Regions from separate parts of the Homo sapiens genome. Here region 2 is linked to region 1. A link means that fine-mapping ties the variant in region 1 to the expression of a gene that starts in the linked region. Tissue or cell type: lung. Region 1 holds a variant in brackets; the other region holds the start of a gene. All regions are shown on one strand. Distances are between the middles of the regions.

The links. PIP is the estimated chance that this variant, and not a neighbour inherited with it, causes the effect.
Region 2: LNC-LBCS starts here. The variant in region 1 is fine-mapped to the expression of LNC-LBCS in lung (TOPMed, PIP above 0.99).

Annotation. Positions count from the first base shown.
Region 1 is chr6:19,776,792-19,784,975 of GRCh38, reverse strand. All of the region lies in intron 2 of LNC-LBCS (lncRNA bladder and prostate cancer suppressor, hnRNPK interacting), which reads left to right. Among named protein-coding and RNA genes, the nearest start is that of LNC-LBCS, 24 kb to the left of the region's middle. The variant AC/C (reference allele first, on the strand shown) is at 3,300.
Region 2 is chr6:19,801,196-19,809,379 of GRCh38, reverse strand. It overlaps LNC-LBCS (lncRNA bladder and prostate cancer suppressor, hnRNPK interacting), which reads left to right and starts at 4,621. Exons shown (of 4, transcript NR_134651.1): 1 at 4,621-4,705; 2 at 7,224-7,293. LOC105374963 (a long non-coding RNA gene) reads right to left here and starts at 1,458. Exons shown (of 5, transcript XR_007059488.1): 1 at 1,395-1,458; 2 at 80-197. RefSeq lists a silencer at 4,653-4,702.

The DNA.
Region 1 (8,184 bases):
ATATTGAGCCTTCCAGTTTGTGAACATGGTATAACCCTTCATGTATTTATGTCTTTTAACATTTCTTTCCTAATATTTTGTAGTTTTCAATGCAGAGGTCATGCAGATGTTTGTTAGGTTTACACCTAAGTATCAGAATTTTTAAAAAACGACTTTTGTTGATGTTTTAATGTGTCAATTTGACTAGACTACAGTCTCCAGTTAGTCGAACACTTACCTATGTCATGCTATGAAGGTATTTTGCATATGTGATTAAAGCCATTAACCACTTAACCTTAATAAGAGAGGTTACCCTAGAAAATCTGGGTGGGCCTTACTGAATAGTGGGATGGCCTTCAAAACAGGGCTGAAGTTTTTCTTTTTTCTTTTCTTTTTTTTTTTTTGAGACGAAGTCACTCACTGTCACCCAGGCTGGAGTGCAGTGGCAAGATCCCGGCTCGCTGCAACCTCCACCTTCTGGATTCAAGCAATTCTCCTGCCTCAGCCTCCTGAGTAGCTGGGATTACAGGCATGTACCACCACGCCTGGCTAATTTTTGTATTTTTAGTAGAGATGGGGTTTCACCATGTTGGTCAGGCTGGTCTCGAACTCCTCTTCTCGTGATCCGCCCGCGTAGGCCTCCCAAAGCGCTGGGATTACAGGCGTGAGCCACCGCGCCTGACCCCAGGTTTTTGTTACAAAGAGATGAAATTCTGTCTGTGGATGACAGTGCTGGCCTGTGCCCGTGAGTTTCATTCTGCTCATGATCTTTCCTTCCTGGTTCCCTGGGCTAGGGATGTTGGACTTGCTTAGTCAGCCTCCACGATAGTAAGCTAATTTTCTGTAATGAATTATCTACCTACCTACATAATCTATTTATCATTTTATCATCTACCTCCCACTGGTGCTGCTTCTCTAAGTGAGCACTGTCTGATACAGATTTTGGTACTGGATGTGTTTCGAAAAGAACAGAATCTTAAGGATGAATTCTCTGAATTGTTGCTGAGCAGTACCTGGAATGATGTAGTCAAAGCATTGCTCAAATTATTGCCAGTGGATGCCTCTAATCAAATCCCAATACCTCAGAAATATTACAACACTTTAATTAAGGTCATTAGATACCAAGGAGCAGGACCAGGATTTAAACCTCGATTTGTTGGACGAAGGTGTTAGCAGCTATGCTCTGCTGCTAGTGCCCATAGGCACTAGATTTACTTTGAGAGAAATTAATGTTTTAAGATTCACACTCTATATGATTCTATAGGTTAAATATCTTTTTTCTCTTTTTGGTATTATTGGGAAGAATATATGGTTTGGGAGATGTTAGATACGGGGAGAAACACCAGAGGGATTGACAAGCATTTTCTGATCAGATTTGGAATATTTAGTTCTATTCAAATCTTCACTACTCATTTTTCAGTGGTTTGTTTTTACTCTTGTGATGTCAAAGACCATATTAATTCACTCATATTCAAAAGCCAAAGAGACTTAAAAGCCAAAAAGAATGTATTTAAAAACAATCTTCTTGCTGTTTACAGCAGCCTAATATGTATGAGACCTCTCTTCTTGGAAGGAAGGATGAGCACAAGGAGCTATAATGGGCTTGATTTCCTTGGCCAGCGCGGGCAGAATGTTTTTGCATAGAGATTTGCAGGAACAATACCTGCTGCATTTTAATTTTTACAGAGACCGAAAGTACGTGTGAAAGTATGTGTGAGCTGAATGCACCCCATGTGAACCTTGCAATTCTAATCTCCAAGGGAAACAAGAACTTCATGGGTCCTAAGCCACCCCTGGAGCAAACATATCCAGGCACAGCCGTCTGTGAATGAGCAGGGCCAAAGCATGCTGGGTGCAGAGCTTTACCCAAAGGACTGTTTGGGGCAACTCTTAATTCCTAAGGCATGGGGTATGATAGGGTATAGAAAATCTGTTAGGAAAAGAACAACCTAAAGAAAAAAAAGGGAGCAAGGAATGGCAAAACATTGGATTCGATCTTCCAACTTCATTGAAGGAAAACTGTGTGAGATTAAAGAAAGCATGTGCCACAGATGCAGCCGGGAATGGCCGGGGGCGAGGCAGAAGTACAAATGCTGCTTTAATATATTGGAATAGAAAGACTTCTGGCTCTTGTATTATGTCTCAGAAACTTCAAGTTTGCTCCTTGGGAGATACATTTAATTAATTAATATACATTTTGCTGACTTTGGGATTTGCAGAAGGCAAACAGTATTTGTATTTTCATGTCTCACAATAACCTAGTGAGATGGAGTTGTTATTCCCATTTTCCAGACAAGCTAACTGAGTCCAGTGACTTGTCTAAGATTCTCAAGGAAGCTGGGAGATACATCTCTTGAATATTTTTCAAATAGTGTCTTGAAAAAATAATGAGCACTTTTATTTCCAAAATATACTTTTGTGAGTCTCTTAGCTTCTCTGATTATCAAATAACATGTTGAGGTTGGCAAGGCAGGTGTTATGATGGTAAATGTGCCTACTTGAGGAAACTGAGGCTCAGCATTGAGTGACACCACCATTCAGCCATGGAAACTAGAAACCGTGGACTACATCCATTCTATTCCCTGGCCAGCGTAGAACTACTTATACACTGTAACTGTAACCTCCCAGCCTTTACACAGTTTCTCTCCCTGCAATACCCACACTGTGATGGTTAATTTCATGTGTCAACTTGACTGGGCTACAGGATGCCCAGATATCTGGTAAAGCATCATTTCTGGCTATGTCTGTGAGGGTATCTGCAGAAGAGATTAGCATTTGAATTCATGGACTGAGTGAAGAAGATCCACTCTCATCAATGTGGGTGAGCACCATACAATCCTTGAGGGCCCAGATAGAACAAAAAGGCAGAAAAGGGGTGAATCTTCTTGAGCTGGGACGGCCAACTTCTGCCCTAGGACCTCAGAATTCCTGCTCCTTGGGTCTTGAAACCCCAGAACTTACACCGTTGGCTTGCTTAGTCTTCAGGCCTTGGGCCTTGTACTGAATTACACTACTGGCTTTCCTGGTTCTTCTGCTTGCAGATGGCAGATTGTGGGACCTCTCATCTTCCATAATCACGGGAGTCAATTCCCATAATGTATTTTCTTATCTCTCGCGCTCTCTCTATATATATCCTATTGGTTCATTTCTTTGGTAAACTCTAACTCCAACTCCTGAGCCTGACCGTCAGGCTTTTGAGAGAGGGCTCAAGGTCACCACAGCTGGAGCAGGGGCTGAACTGTGGCTGGGACCTGTGGGGCTCATCTCTGGAGCTACTGGAAGAGGAGTCTGCCTAGTGCCCCACAGCTAGAAAAAGGCGA[AC/C]ATTCTCGCTGGGGTGGGGATTGGGGGTGGGCAGGAAAAAGCTGTTTTGCGAATATTAAGTCTTTGAGGGTGTTCCATACAGAATTCACCAGATGAACAGTACCGGGCCATCACAGCCTTTGGCTCAGTCATTCCTCAGGCTAAGAGAAGCCCTCTCTTTCACTAACAGAGCTATCTTCCAAAGTCTGCTGTGAAACCAAACATCAATGTTTTGCTCCACCAACAGGCTACTGAGAGGTAATGATTAGCTGGCTACCATTGATTGAGTGCTCACTAAGTGAGGAAGTGCATTACTTACGTGGCCTCATTAAGACCTCTTGAGGTTACTCCAACTGACAGAAAGGGAAAATGAGGCCGGGCAAGGCACACAGATGTGCCCAAAGTTTCCTACTTGGTAATGAGCCCAAGCAGGGCCTGAACATGTCACATGGGAGGGTGCATGTTTGACGCCTCTTAATTTAATTTACTTCGAGCCAGAGCAGGAAGGAAGGTCATTTAATACTGTACTTGAAAACTGATTTTTGCTCTACTAAAGATGCCACTACTGAATTTTCCCAGGGAATGAGCTGAGTCCTGCTTTCTTTCTATTAATTACCTGTGCAGGCAGCCTTGCACTTTTAATATTGCCTCACACCTGAGACTCTTTCAAGGTTATTTGACTGCATGCTAAGGTGAAGAAAATTCTTTTCAAACATTAGTGCTTAATGGACTTCAGCTCAAAGCAACTGAACCACCTACAGTGTACAGCACTGTTCTGCCCCCCAATCCCCACCCAAATAAAGATAAAACTGGTCCCTAGTCTCCAGGAGCTTTTAGTCTTTGGAAAAAGCATTATATTCAAATGAGGTAGGTAGACATTGTTCTAGACAGACACTAATCTGTGACAATAAGTACATAGAATAGTGCTAATGAACAATGATAAATACTTTGACAAAATGTACTTAATAATACAGAGCAATGACCAGTCAGAAAAATGTCAGGTAGGATTTGAATAATTCCAAGGAATATTTGATGAGAGCATTTCCCCTGGTTTTAAGGGTAATTTTGAAAGTATTAATTTGTTGCATGAGATTTAAAAAAAAAAACCCATATTACCACTTAATTAAAATTTTTTTGATATAGACTTAGGGAGAAGTGGTCAAGAGTAGCCAACCATCCGCTTTGTCAATTCTGGATAGAGTCAGAAGAAAAATACTATTTCCTATGTGTAGATATTCCATGAATTAATACAAAACATCAGTTCTTAGAATAGTCATTGGTGTATACTATAAATTCAGCAAATATTAGATACTATTTCAGCAAATATTTGATATTATTATTACGTCTTTGATGAAGCAATTGTTTGTATTTCAGGGAATGGTTCAAATGAATATGTTACATAATGCATAATGTTTTGTGATTGAGTTGGATCCCCTGTGGTTTATTTTTCCTTGCAAAAAGTCAGGCTTTTCCATTTTGTATTTTTGTCAGTAGAGTGTCTTAGGTAAAATGCATAGCTTTGTAGCCCAGCTCAATAACTACACCCCTTCAGGTATTTTCTGGTATTTATTTCACAAATCCGTACATTTTTAAAAGAACAGATACCGTTTTTAGTAATTCAAAAATGTTTTCTAGGTACTTGTTTATATTCAAAGTCTGTTATCTTGGATGAACATTCCCCAAAACATGCACCAGACATTTTTCTCATATTTTGGATTGTCAATGTGAAATGTACTTAAAATTTCCCACAGCATCAGTTTTCTTTGTAAATTTTCAACACATTTCATATGCTTCTATAACAGATAATGCCTTGTTCTGCATTTACTTTCAAGAAAATGACTTCTATGGTTTTATACCTTTACCTCATATTAAAAATACACTAATAAGCTTGTTGTCACGGGGAACTATCTTTGTGTCAAACTGAATGTAGCATTTGAAGAAGCCATTTACAATGAGGAAGTTTCCATTTCTGAGCACTGTTGATATTAAGGTGCTGAATTACCTGCCCTGGTGGTTAAGTGTTCCCAGCCATTGCTGTCTTGCTCAACTGACTTGAATTTTGTAGAAGCTGAACTATTTGCAGGTCACACCGTTATGTGCAAGGTGAAAGTTCTTCCCTAGTAAGGAACACTTGAAGTATAAATAGTAAGCTTAGTAGAGTGAAACAAATTGCCTGTCGTGATGAACTCACTGATGTGTTATTTGTGTTCCTTTCTGTCTACTTAGTCAATATAATGAAAATAATATGTTCTCATAAAAATTTGGAAATTATAGAAAGGAATAAAAAATACGCATCGACAATCACTGTTAACATTTTTATGTATGTCTTTTGATCTCCTGTGTGTATTAAAAAATCATTGAGATATGTACACATCATTTTGTATCTTTTTAAAATACAGGCTGAGCGCAGTGGCTCACGCCTGTAATCTCAGCACTTTGGGAGGCCAAGGCAGGTGGATCATTTCAGGTTAGGCATTCAAGACCAGCCTGGCCAACATGGTGAAACCCCATCTCTACTAAAAATACAAAAAATTAGCTGGCCGTGGTGGCAGGCGCCTCTAATTCCAGCTACTCGGGAGGCTGAGGCAGGAGAATCGCTTGAACTCGGGAGGCAGAGGTTGCAGTGAGCCAAGATCGCACCACTTCACTCCAGCCTGGGCGACAGAGCGAGACTCCGTCTCAACAAAAAGACAAAAAAAAAATACATCCCATTATAGCATTTTCGATCTGCCAGTCATTTTTTCTATAATCATAACTGGCTAATGTCCATGTTTGTAAATATAGAATCCTGTATTTTAGACTTGCCAGCCAACAGACTATACTCACATATTGTTTTCTCATGTCTGTAGTCATTTGGTCCATCATAGATTAAATGTCCATGAATAGAAAATGTGAGTCTGCTTGGCCAGGTGCGGTAGCTCACGCCTGTAATCCCAGCACTTTGGGAGGCCTAGGCGGGTGGATCATGAGGTCAGGAGATCGAGACCATCCTGGCTAACACAGTGAAACCCCGTCTCTACTAAAAATACAAAAAATTAGCCGGGCGTGGTGGCGGGTGCCTGTAGTCCCAGCTACTCGGGAGGCTGAGGCAGGAGAATGGTGTAAGTAAACCTGGGAGGCAGAGTTTGCAGTGAGCCGAGATCACGCCACTGTACTCCAGCCTGGGCAACAGAGTGAGACTCTGTCTCAAACAAACAAACAAAAAAGGTGTGTCTGCTTTAAGACATTGCCACATGGCTCAAACATTCACTTGATGTCTCTTCATTTTATTTGTCTATGTCCATAACCTTTTGGAAAAATTTCATTGATTAATTTGCTCGCTATTCTGAGATAGAAGTAAGGCATCAGAGCAGTTTATTTCTTGATATCACTCCTGCTCACTGTTTTGAAGAGGCCTAGCAAGTAGAAAACTTAAAGTAGTTTTCCTAGAATAGAATATCAACCGGGACCAGTAACTCCACAATCGTTGTTACGGAAGAGTCCATACTTATGTCCACAAATTACATATATTATGTAACCCTGACATCTAAACTCAAGGAAGAATTTTACATTATTCTGATTACAATAAAGGGTGATGGGTGCACCAAAATCTCGGAAATCACCACTAAAGAACTTATTCATGTAACCAAACACCACCTGTTCCCCCAAAAACCTATGGAAATAAAAAAATAAATAGGAGCATTTGTAAAATAATATTTTTAACTTAATATATTGCTAGGTGACTTTTTTTGAGTTGAGGCTGATATTTTGCACTGTGAATTCCACCAGTCTAAAAATAAAGCTTCTGGAAAGCTTTTCCTGGATATGAACTGTAGTAATGAGGAGGCACCTGCATGTCCACATAGGATATACATGGGATTGATTGCAACCTCCTATTTTTTGTTAGCTTTATTGAGGCATAATTTACATATAATAAAATTCTTTTTTTGGCCAGGTGCGGTGGCTCACACCTGTAATCCCAGCACTTTGGGAGGCCGAGGAGGGTGAATCACCTGAGGTCAGGAGTTCGAGACCAACCTGGTCAACATGGTGAAACCACATCTCTACTAAAAATACAAAAATTAGCCAGGTGTGGTGGTGCATGCCTGTAATCCCAGCTACTCGAGAGGCTGAGGCAGGAGAATTGCTTGAACACGGGAGGCGGAGGTTGCAGTGAGCCAAGATCATGCCATTGCACTCCAGCCTGGGCAACAGAGTGAAACTCTGTCTCAAAATAAATAAATAAAAATTAAAAAATTCATTTTTTTTCTTTTAGATACAGGATCTTGCACACTGCACAGGATGGAGTGCAGTGGTGTGATCATAGCTCACTGCAGCCTCAAACTCCTGGGCTCAAGGCATCCTCTTGCCGCCCAAGTAGCTGGGACTACAGGTACACACCACCACACTGGCCAACTAAAAAAATTCTTTTTTTGTAGAGACGGGAATCTCACTGTGTTGCTCAGGCTGGTCTTGAACTCCTGGCCTTAAGTGATCCTCCTGCCTCGGCCTCCCAAGTCGCTGGGATTGCAAGTGTAAGCCACTACCCCGGCCTAAAATTCAATTTTAAGCGTATAATTTGATAAATTGTGACAAACATATGCAGCTCTGTGACAACTACCACAATCGTGATATAGAACATTTCCATTACGACTAAAAGTTGCAGTGGGCCTCTTGGCAGTGACTTCCTTCACCTGCCTCTTTACTCCATGGTAATAATGATCTGCTTTTTATCACTATAGTCTGGCTTTTCTAGAAATTCATATACATGGAACTTTATAGTCTTTTTTGTCTGGTTCTCTCATTTAATATAATGCTTTTTGTAACATCTTATTGTTTGTTATCAGTTCATTCTTATTTGTTGCTAAATAATATTTCACTTATTATTTAATCTCTTCACCAGTTGATAGGTATTTGAGTTCTTTC
Region 2 (8,184 bases), 24 kb before region 1:
ATTTTAGAGGAATAAATGAATCAATGAAGTTTTAAAAGTTAAGTTAGTCACCAAGGAAAAGACTATACACTCTTCTCACCTTCAGATTTTTTTCCAGCAAGTAACGATTATTTTTTTAGAGAAGACGCAAAATAAAAGTTCCAATGGTCCAAGTCGCTATTTTAAGTGCTCATTCATCAGTTCTAAACCTAAAGAGGCTGTTAAAGTAGATTATTAAAGCAAAGCTAAAATCAAGTAAAATAACTGCACTGCCACACTATGGTACCATATAGGTTCATAAACCAGGTTTATCATTTCCATCCAGTCACGTGCCAAATCACTGTTCCTTCTCTCGCCAATGAGAGATATCAGGGTATGTTCACAACTAAACCATGACAGTTAATGAGGGATGGAAGACATTGAGCTTAGAGAATGTGCTATAAACCATCAAAATCCACCACCAAACACACCCAGTATTAAAAATGATCTAGTGCTAGTATAACAGTTAACACTGGGGGTAATGTTCAGGGGCAGAAATGAAGCCTACAAAATGAGCTGGTGACTGTATATTAGATTAGTGATTCTCAACACTGACTGCCCATTATAATCACCTAGGGAGGCTTTAAAAATACTGATTCTAGGGCTCCACTCCCAGAGATTCTGATTAAATTTCTGTGGGGTGGAGCTCAGGAATTCCCACTGAAAAAAAATAGTAATGCCGATGTGAGGTCAGGGTTGAAAAATGCTTCATTGGACCATGGGAGGGATGGAGGGAAGTTTTTTCCTTTTCTTACATAAATGGATGATTTAATCAGCTGGTGGCAGCCATTACAATTCATGCAAACACAAAATTTTTCTGATTCACCTCTTCACCTGATATTTTCTCATCTTCCCTAGACCAAACCTTCCCCAAAACTCCATGCTTGGACTATTAATATTATTTCCTATGGGTCTCTTCGCTTGTTTTCGTTCTTCCCTCATATTTTCACCTTGCACAACAATGACAAGTGGCTTTTCTTATATCAAAGACTCTATGTGTAAGGTATTTGTCATCTAAATTTCTCAGGTTCGGCTTCCATTCTGAGCTCTGCCATTATCTAATGAGATTGTACTGCTGCTCAGTTTCAACTACACCAAATTAAATTGGGTAACCTCTAAGGTTGTCTTACCCCACCAGTAAATCTTCAATCCCATTTTTTATAGTTTCCCTAAATATTTTTAATTGAAGTCAGACAAAATCTTCTTCACCCCTCAACTTATTTTTTGCTCCTTTCCTTCCAATGCAATTGTTATTTATGCTGTTTCTTCTGCTTTTTCATTCCCTCAGCCAATCATATGCACAATCACGTGGCTCAAGCTCATCTTCTCCACAGGTTTTAGGAACCCAGACCACTTTATATCCATTATATTCTTACTTTATGCTTTCCTTGGTACTCTGTGGTCAAGATTCTCTTTATTCAAAGTGCAGTTCAGGGTTAGCAATATCAACATCACTTGGGGGCTTGTTAAAGATGCAGAATCCCAAGCCTCTTCTGCATTTCATCCAATTGCCAGGTGACTTCATGCACATCAAGATAAACTGGCCTATACCCGTTTATTAGCACTTGCTTTGTTTTCTAGTTTCTCTCTTTCTTTCTTCCTTCCTTCCTTTTCTTTTTCTCTCTCTCTCCCCTTTTTTTTTTTGAGATGGAGTCTTGCTCTGTTGCCCAGGTGGGAGTGCAAGTGGCACCATCTCGGCTCACTGCAACCTCTGCCACCTTCAAGTGATTCCCCTGCCTCAGCCTTCTGAGTAGCTGGGACTACAGGCGTGCATCACCACACCCAGCTAATTTGTTTTTTTTTTTTTTAGTAGAGATGGGGTTTCACCATTGAGAGGTGACAGCGTGCTGGCAGTCCTCACAGCCCTTGCTCGCTCTCGTCGCCTCCTCTGCCTGGGCTCCCACTTTGGCGACACTTGAGGAGCCCTTCAGCCCACTGCTGCACTGTGGGAGCCCCTTTCTGGGCTGGACAAGGCCGGAGACGGCTCCCTCAGCTGGCAGGGAGGTGTGGAGGGAGAGGCGTGGGCGGGAACTGGGGCTGCAGGTGGTGCTTGCGAGCCAGCGCGAGTTCCAGGTGGGCGTGGGCTTGGCAGGCCCCGCACTCAGAGCAGCCCACCAGCGGTGCCGGCCCCGGGCAGTGAGGGGCTTAGCACCTGGGCCAGCAGCTGCTGTGCTCAATTTCTCGGTGGGCCTTAGCTGCCTTCCCACGGGGCAGGGCTTGGGACCTGCAGCCCGCCATGCCTGAGCCTCCCCCGACGTCCGTGGGCTCCTGTGCGGCCTGACCCTCCCTGATGAGCACTGCCCCCTGCTCCATGGTGCCCAGTCCCATCCACCACCCAACGGCTGAGGAGTGTGGGCCCACTGCGCAGGACTGGTAGGCAGCTCCACCTGCGGCCCCAGTGCGGGATCCACTGGGTGAAGCCACCTGGGCTCCTGAATCTGATGGGGACTTGGAGAATCTTTATGTCTAGCTAAGGGATTGTAAATACACCAATCAGCACTCTGTATCTAGCTCGAGGTTTGTAAACACACCAATCAGCACCCTGTGTCTAGCTCAGGGTTTGTGAGTGCATCAATGGACACTCTGTATCTAGCTACTCTGGTGGGGACTTGGAGAACCTTTGTGTGGACACTCTGTATCTAGCATCATCTAGTGGGAATGTGGAGAACCTTTGTGTCTAGCTCAGGGGTTGTAAATGCACCAATCAGCGCAAACAGACCACTCAGCTCTCTGTAAAATGGACTAATTAGCAGGATGTGGGTGGGGCCAGGTAAGAGAATAAAAGCAGGCTGCCCCAGCCAGCAGTAAAAAGCCGTTCGTGTCCGCTTAGGTGCTGTGGAAGCTTTATTCTTTCGCCCTTTGCAATAAGTCTTGCTGCTGCTTACTCTGTGGGTCCCCACTGCCTTTATGAGCTGTGTGCTACTCACCGTGAAGGTCTACAGCTTCACTCTTGAAGCCAGCGAGACCACAAACCCACCAGAAGGAATGAACAACTCCAGACAGGCCGCCTTATGAGCTGTAACACTCACGGGGAAGGTCTGTAGCTTCACTCTTGAGCCAGCGAGACCATGAACCCACCAGAAGGAAGAAACTGAACACATCAGAAGGAACAAACTCCAGACACGCCGCCTTTAAGAACTGTAACACTCACCGCGAGGGTCTGCGGCTTCATTCTTGAGGTAAGTGAGACCAAGAACCCACCAATTCCGGACACCATGTTGGTCAGGCTGGTCTCGAACTCTCCCTCGGCCCCACAGAGTGCTGGGATTCAGGCATGAGCCGCCAGGCCCTTAACTTTTATTCCAAAAAAATTTCAGTTAAAACTTCCAGTACATAGTATTTGCATAGCAGGGACCCTGAAGTGTTTGTTAAATGAATGTCACATATATCACATACTGTGATAGGAATAAAGTCATTCGTTTGAAAGGTTGATAAATACAATGATAGACTGCTAGAACTTCATGAGTCTTAAGAGAATATCTCACCAGATCTCATCTTCCAGATTTAAAAAGGGGGGCACAGACTTCAGCAGGAAGGGCTGATTTAACGACATCTACTATAATGTGAGTCTGGGCCACACTCTGGTTTTCCAGTTTCAGTAATGATGCATCACTACTCTTGAAAAACCACCAGAAACCAACAAGTAAGCACCCAAAAAGATGTTTAGGAATTCAGAAGTACTCCTTTTACTCTAGCCTTAAAATTATTTGCTCTTGCATTGTGGATTACCCATCAACAATGTCCAGTCCTTACCAGGAGTCAGGGAGAGCGTCAAATGCTGGGCATACTGAAATGACCTTAACCCAGTACTTGGCCACCTACAGGACACTGTAATGGAGAGCAAAGCAGGACAGAGGTAATGCAAAACACAAAAACACCAAAAAATTGGAAATCTTTGGAGCCATTTGCCTTCTAGAACCTTAAAGGCGCCCTATAGTCCCACACTATAGAATATTGGAAGAGCAGTCGGCTGTAAGTCTGAATCATGAGTTCCTTACACTTTTTTCTACCCAGTTCAATTTTGGGAACTTCCGAGTCCTGGTCCTTTCATTGTTTGTGATACCCAACACCCAGCACAATGCGGAGAGCACAGTAAGGTGGCAGTGAATTCATCAATACTTTCAAAGTCTATTTTATCTACAAGGACAAGTTTTATTGTATGTTTCCTTTTAAATAAGTGCCACAGTCGCAGTAAGTGAAAACATCCTGACACCACCCCAGCGGCCCCCCCAGCTCGTGGGCCTCCCCGCAGAGCGCGCGCCCGTGGGGGTAACCGGCGGAAAACTAGGGACGCGGGCACAGCCGCAGACTGGGCGTGGGGGGCACCGGAATGGCCGAGCCTGGGACGCTGGGACCTCTGGCCGCCGCGGGGCGACCAGGCGGGCGGAGACGTCTCGCGCCCTCCCGGGCCGCGCGGCTCCAGGCGCATTCCTGCACCCAGCTCCCGCGCGCCGCGCTGCGCTGCCTCCCCCGGACAGCTGATTCATTGGCTCGGCCGCCCAGACTGCCTGGCGCCGGCTGCGTGACGTCACCCATTCACGGAGCCCGCCTCCCCCGCTCCGCTGGCGCCGGCCGGGCGGTCGCCCTGACAACGCAGACGCCAGCCCGCACAATGACTTCCAGCTGGAGCAGCCCAGCCAGCCTGCGCGCTCACTCGCTTGCTTGCGCTGGGCTTCAGGGCGCCCGGGTGAGTTTTTTTCTCTCCCTCTCGTTTTTTTTTTTTTCCCAGGCTCTCGCGGGTTTCCCCTGCCAGGGAATCCACTCGCTGTAGTTTTCTAGGGCTCTGGTCCCAGTCCTTTCTGAAGCGCGCTTGCAGGCTGTCTTCCTCAGTCGCCCTCTCCCTGGGTGCTGTTTTGCTGGGCAGCATCCCATGCTAGGCTCGGCAGACATTCTGGCGGTTGGGTTCGGCCCTTACAGCGCTAACACCTGCAGAGTCGAGGCTCCTGCCAAAAGGCAGAAAGCAAAGGAGGAAAAAATTCATTGTCATAATAGCGAAAATGATAAACCTCAGCTGTTTAAGAGAAGAATGTCTGAGTAGCTGTTGATTATCTCCCATAATCACAAAACAACTTTTTTTTAAAAAGAATTTGCACTGTCTGTTAAAACGCGGTCATTGTTTTGCTTTCAAATCGAACTTCACGACAGTTAGCAACTTCAAGAACGCTTCCAAATGGATAAATCTTTCCAGAAGGTAAAACAAATCTGGGAAGTTGTAGCAGTGTAAATTGGAGAGTGTGTGAGGGTCGTATTTGGAGAGAGAGAGACACACACACAGGAGATTGGTGGTCTTGGGGCAAGGCAAATAGCTCATTCGCCCCCCCACACCTCCAGTTTCCACCCCAGACCTTTAAATCTTGAAGGTGGAGGAAAGGGAGACGTAGCTGTTGATTAGAGTTGGGTGGGAGGTAATTCTTATTCTAAATTTTCATTTTATTTATTTTTTGGTGCCAGATTTCTTGCTTCAAAACAGCTGCATTTTTGGAAGAAAGTCCACAACTGACAACTAAGCAAAACCCTCCTGGTGGATAGCATAAATCTGCTTTGTTGAAGCTGCTCATTTGTCTGATCTATGAGTCCAGAAGATGCAAACTCCCTTCCCAGCTTATGCAAAAATACTTCCAGTAAAAACAAGCCCTTTGGCCCTTTTCTTTTGTCAGTCCAGATTTCAGCATGTTCTTCGCTTTGTTATTCATCATTTTATGTATTTGGACCCATCCTCAAACAGACTTTAAACCGTTTAAAGGCAAGGAGGGACTCTTTCGTAAACCTTTAATCCCCTGGCCCAGCTGAGTAGATGCACAGTGTCTTTTGATGATGGTGATATGGAATGATTAATAACCACACAAGGCATTCGGTTGGTCAAGTCACTGTTTATTGGCTCAAAATAATCCTTGGTTTCTGTATGTCTACAGCTCACTTCCTAAACAGTTAAATCCGGAGAAGTCTAATAGATAATAGTTGGTGATCATAAATATAAATAACCAATACATTAGAATGTGTAGTCAAAATAGGAATACTTGCTTTTCACTTACTTCCCACGGGTCGCTGCTGGTGGTAGTCAACACAAATAAAAATTTGAACTCATTTTGTTATTCATCTAAAATGAGAAACTCGGTGAAACATTGATTTTCTAAAATTGCTGCATATTTAAATGTGATTATAATTGCTTTTTAGCATTTTAAAATTGTAACATCGATACCAAATGCTTAAGAATCTAAAGAATAGTCTATTGGGGCTGGCCTATTTTGTGTAAAATGGTCTGTATCATAATGGATGACTGATTATCCCATCCACATTATTTGGATTCACTTAATACTAGGTTTTAACGTTAGGAGAATAAAACCCTCAAGAAACCTAACATAGATTTGTATATTTAGTTTTCTCCTTCCTTATCATCTTCCACCAGACTTACAGGTGTTCCACCTGCTTGTAGTTTCGGTAATAATACCAGCTGGCGGTGGTTCCTAACTCTAGCTACACTTTAAAATTACCTCGTGCATTTAAAAAAAAAATGCAGTTGTTTAGGTTCTTCCCCTAGATATTTTAATTTACAAGGTTTGGGATGTGGCCTGGGCACCGATTTTTTTAACTTTTTATTTGAATGTAGACTTACAGGAAGTTGCAAAGATAGTACAGAGAGGTCTGATAGAGCCTCCACTGTTGGTTACATCCCGCATAGCTAGAGCACAATAATAAAGCCAGGACATTGACACTGAGATAAAATGTGCCTGTGATTCTGTGTCACCTTATCCCTGAAGACTCTTGTAATCATTACCACAATCAAAATACAAACTATTTCAACACCACGAAGATCTCTCTCATACAGTCCCTTTATGGTCGTCCCTTTCTTTCCCCCACACCATCCCTAACCCTTTGCAACCATCAGTCTGTTCTCCATTTCTATAATTTTGTCGTTTGGGGAATGTTTTATAAATTGGTCCTCACAGCTTGTGACCTTCTAAGATTAGCTCACCATCCCCCCCACCCCCCCACCCCACCCAACTCAGCAGAATGCCCTAGAGATTTATCCAAGTTATTGCAGGTATTTCTAGTTTGTTCCTTTCTGTTACTGAGTTCTACACTATGGGTGTAACACAGTTTGTTTAATCATTCAGCATTCACCTATCATACATTTTGGTTCCTTCTTTTTTTGGGCGGGGGGAGTGCCTATTACAAATAAAACTGTCTTGAAAAATTGCTTGCAGGTTTTTCTGTGGACCTAAATTTTCATTTCTCTGGGATAAATGTCCAGGAGTGTGATTGCTGGGTCATATGGTAAGTATGTGTTTAATTTTTAAAGAAACTGCTGAACTATTTTCCAGAAATGTGGTACTATTTTACATTCCCAGCAGCCATATATGAGAGATCCAGTTTTTCCACATCCTTACCAGTATTTTGTATTGTCACTATTTTTTTACTTTTACTGTTCCGATTAGGTGTGCAGTGATACCTCACTCTGGTCTTAATTTGCATTTTCCTAATGACTAGGGATGTTGATCATTTTCTCATGTCTTTGCCATACACATATCCTCTTCAGTGAAATCCCTCTTCGTGTCATTTTCTTATTTTCTTGATTTGTTCTGTTACTGTTGAGTTTTGAAGGTTCTTTAAATTATAGACATGAGTCCTTTATCAGTTACATCAGCAGTCCTCAACCTTTTTGGCTTCAGGGACAAGTTTCGTGGAAGACAGTTTTTTCCACGGAAGTGGGGGTGGTGGGGGAAATGGTTTCCAGATGGAACTGTTCCACTTAAGATCATCAGACATTAGATTCTCATAAGGAGCATGCAAACTAGATCCCTCGCATTCGCAGTTCACAATAGGGTTCGCTCTCCTGTGAGAATCTGATGCCCTGGCTGATCTGACAGGAGACAGAGCTCAGGTGGTGAGGCTGGCTCAGGAGGTGCTTAACTCCTGCTGTGTTGCCAGCTTCCTAACAGGCCATTGACCTGTACCAGTCTGAGGCCCAGGACTTGGGGACCCCTGAGAGATGTGGTTTGCAAATAGTTTTTCCCAGTGTTTTTGCTGTCTTTTGGATCTTTTGGGCCACATCCGGTGGCTCACGCCTGTAATCCCAGCACTTTGGGAGACTTAGGCGGGTGAATCACCTGAGTCGGGAGTTCGAGACCAGGCTGACCAGCATGGAGAAACTCCGTCTCTACTAAA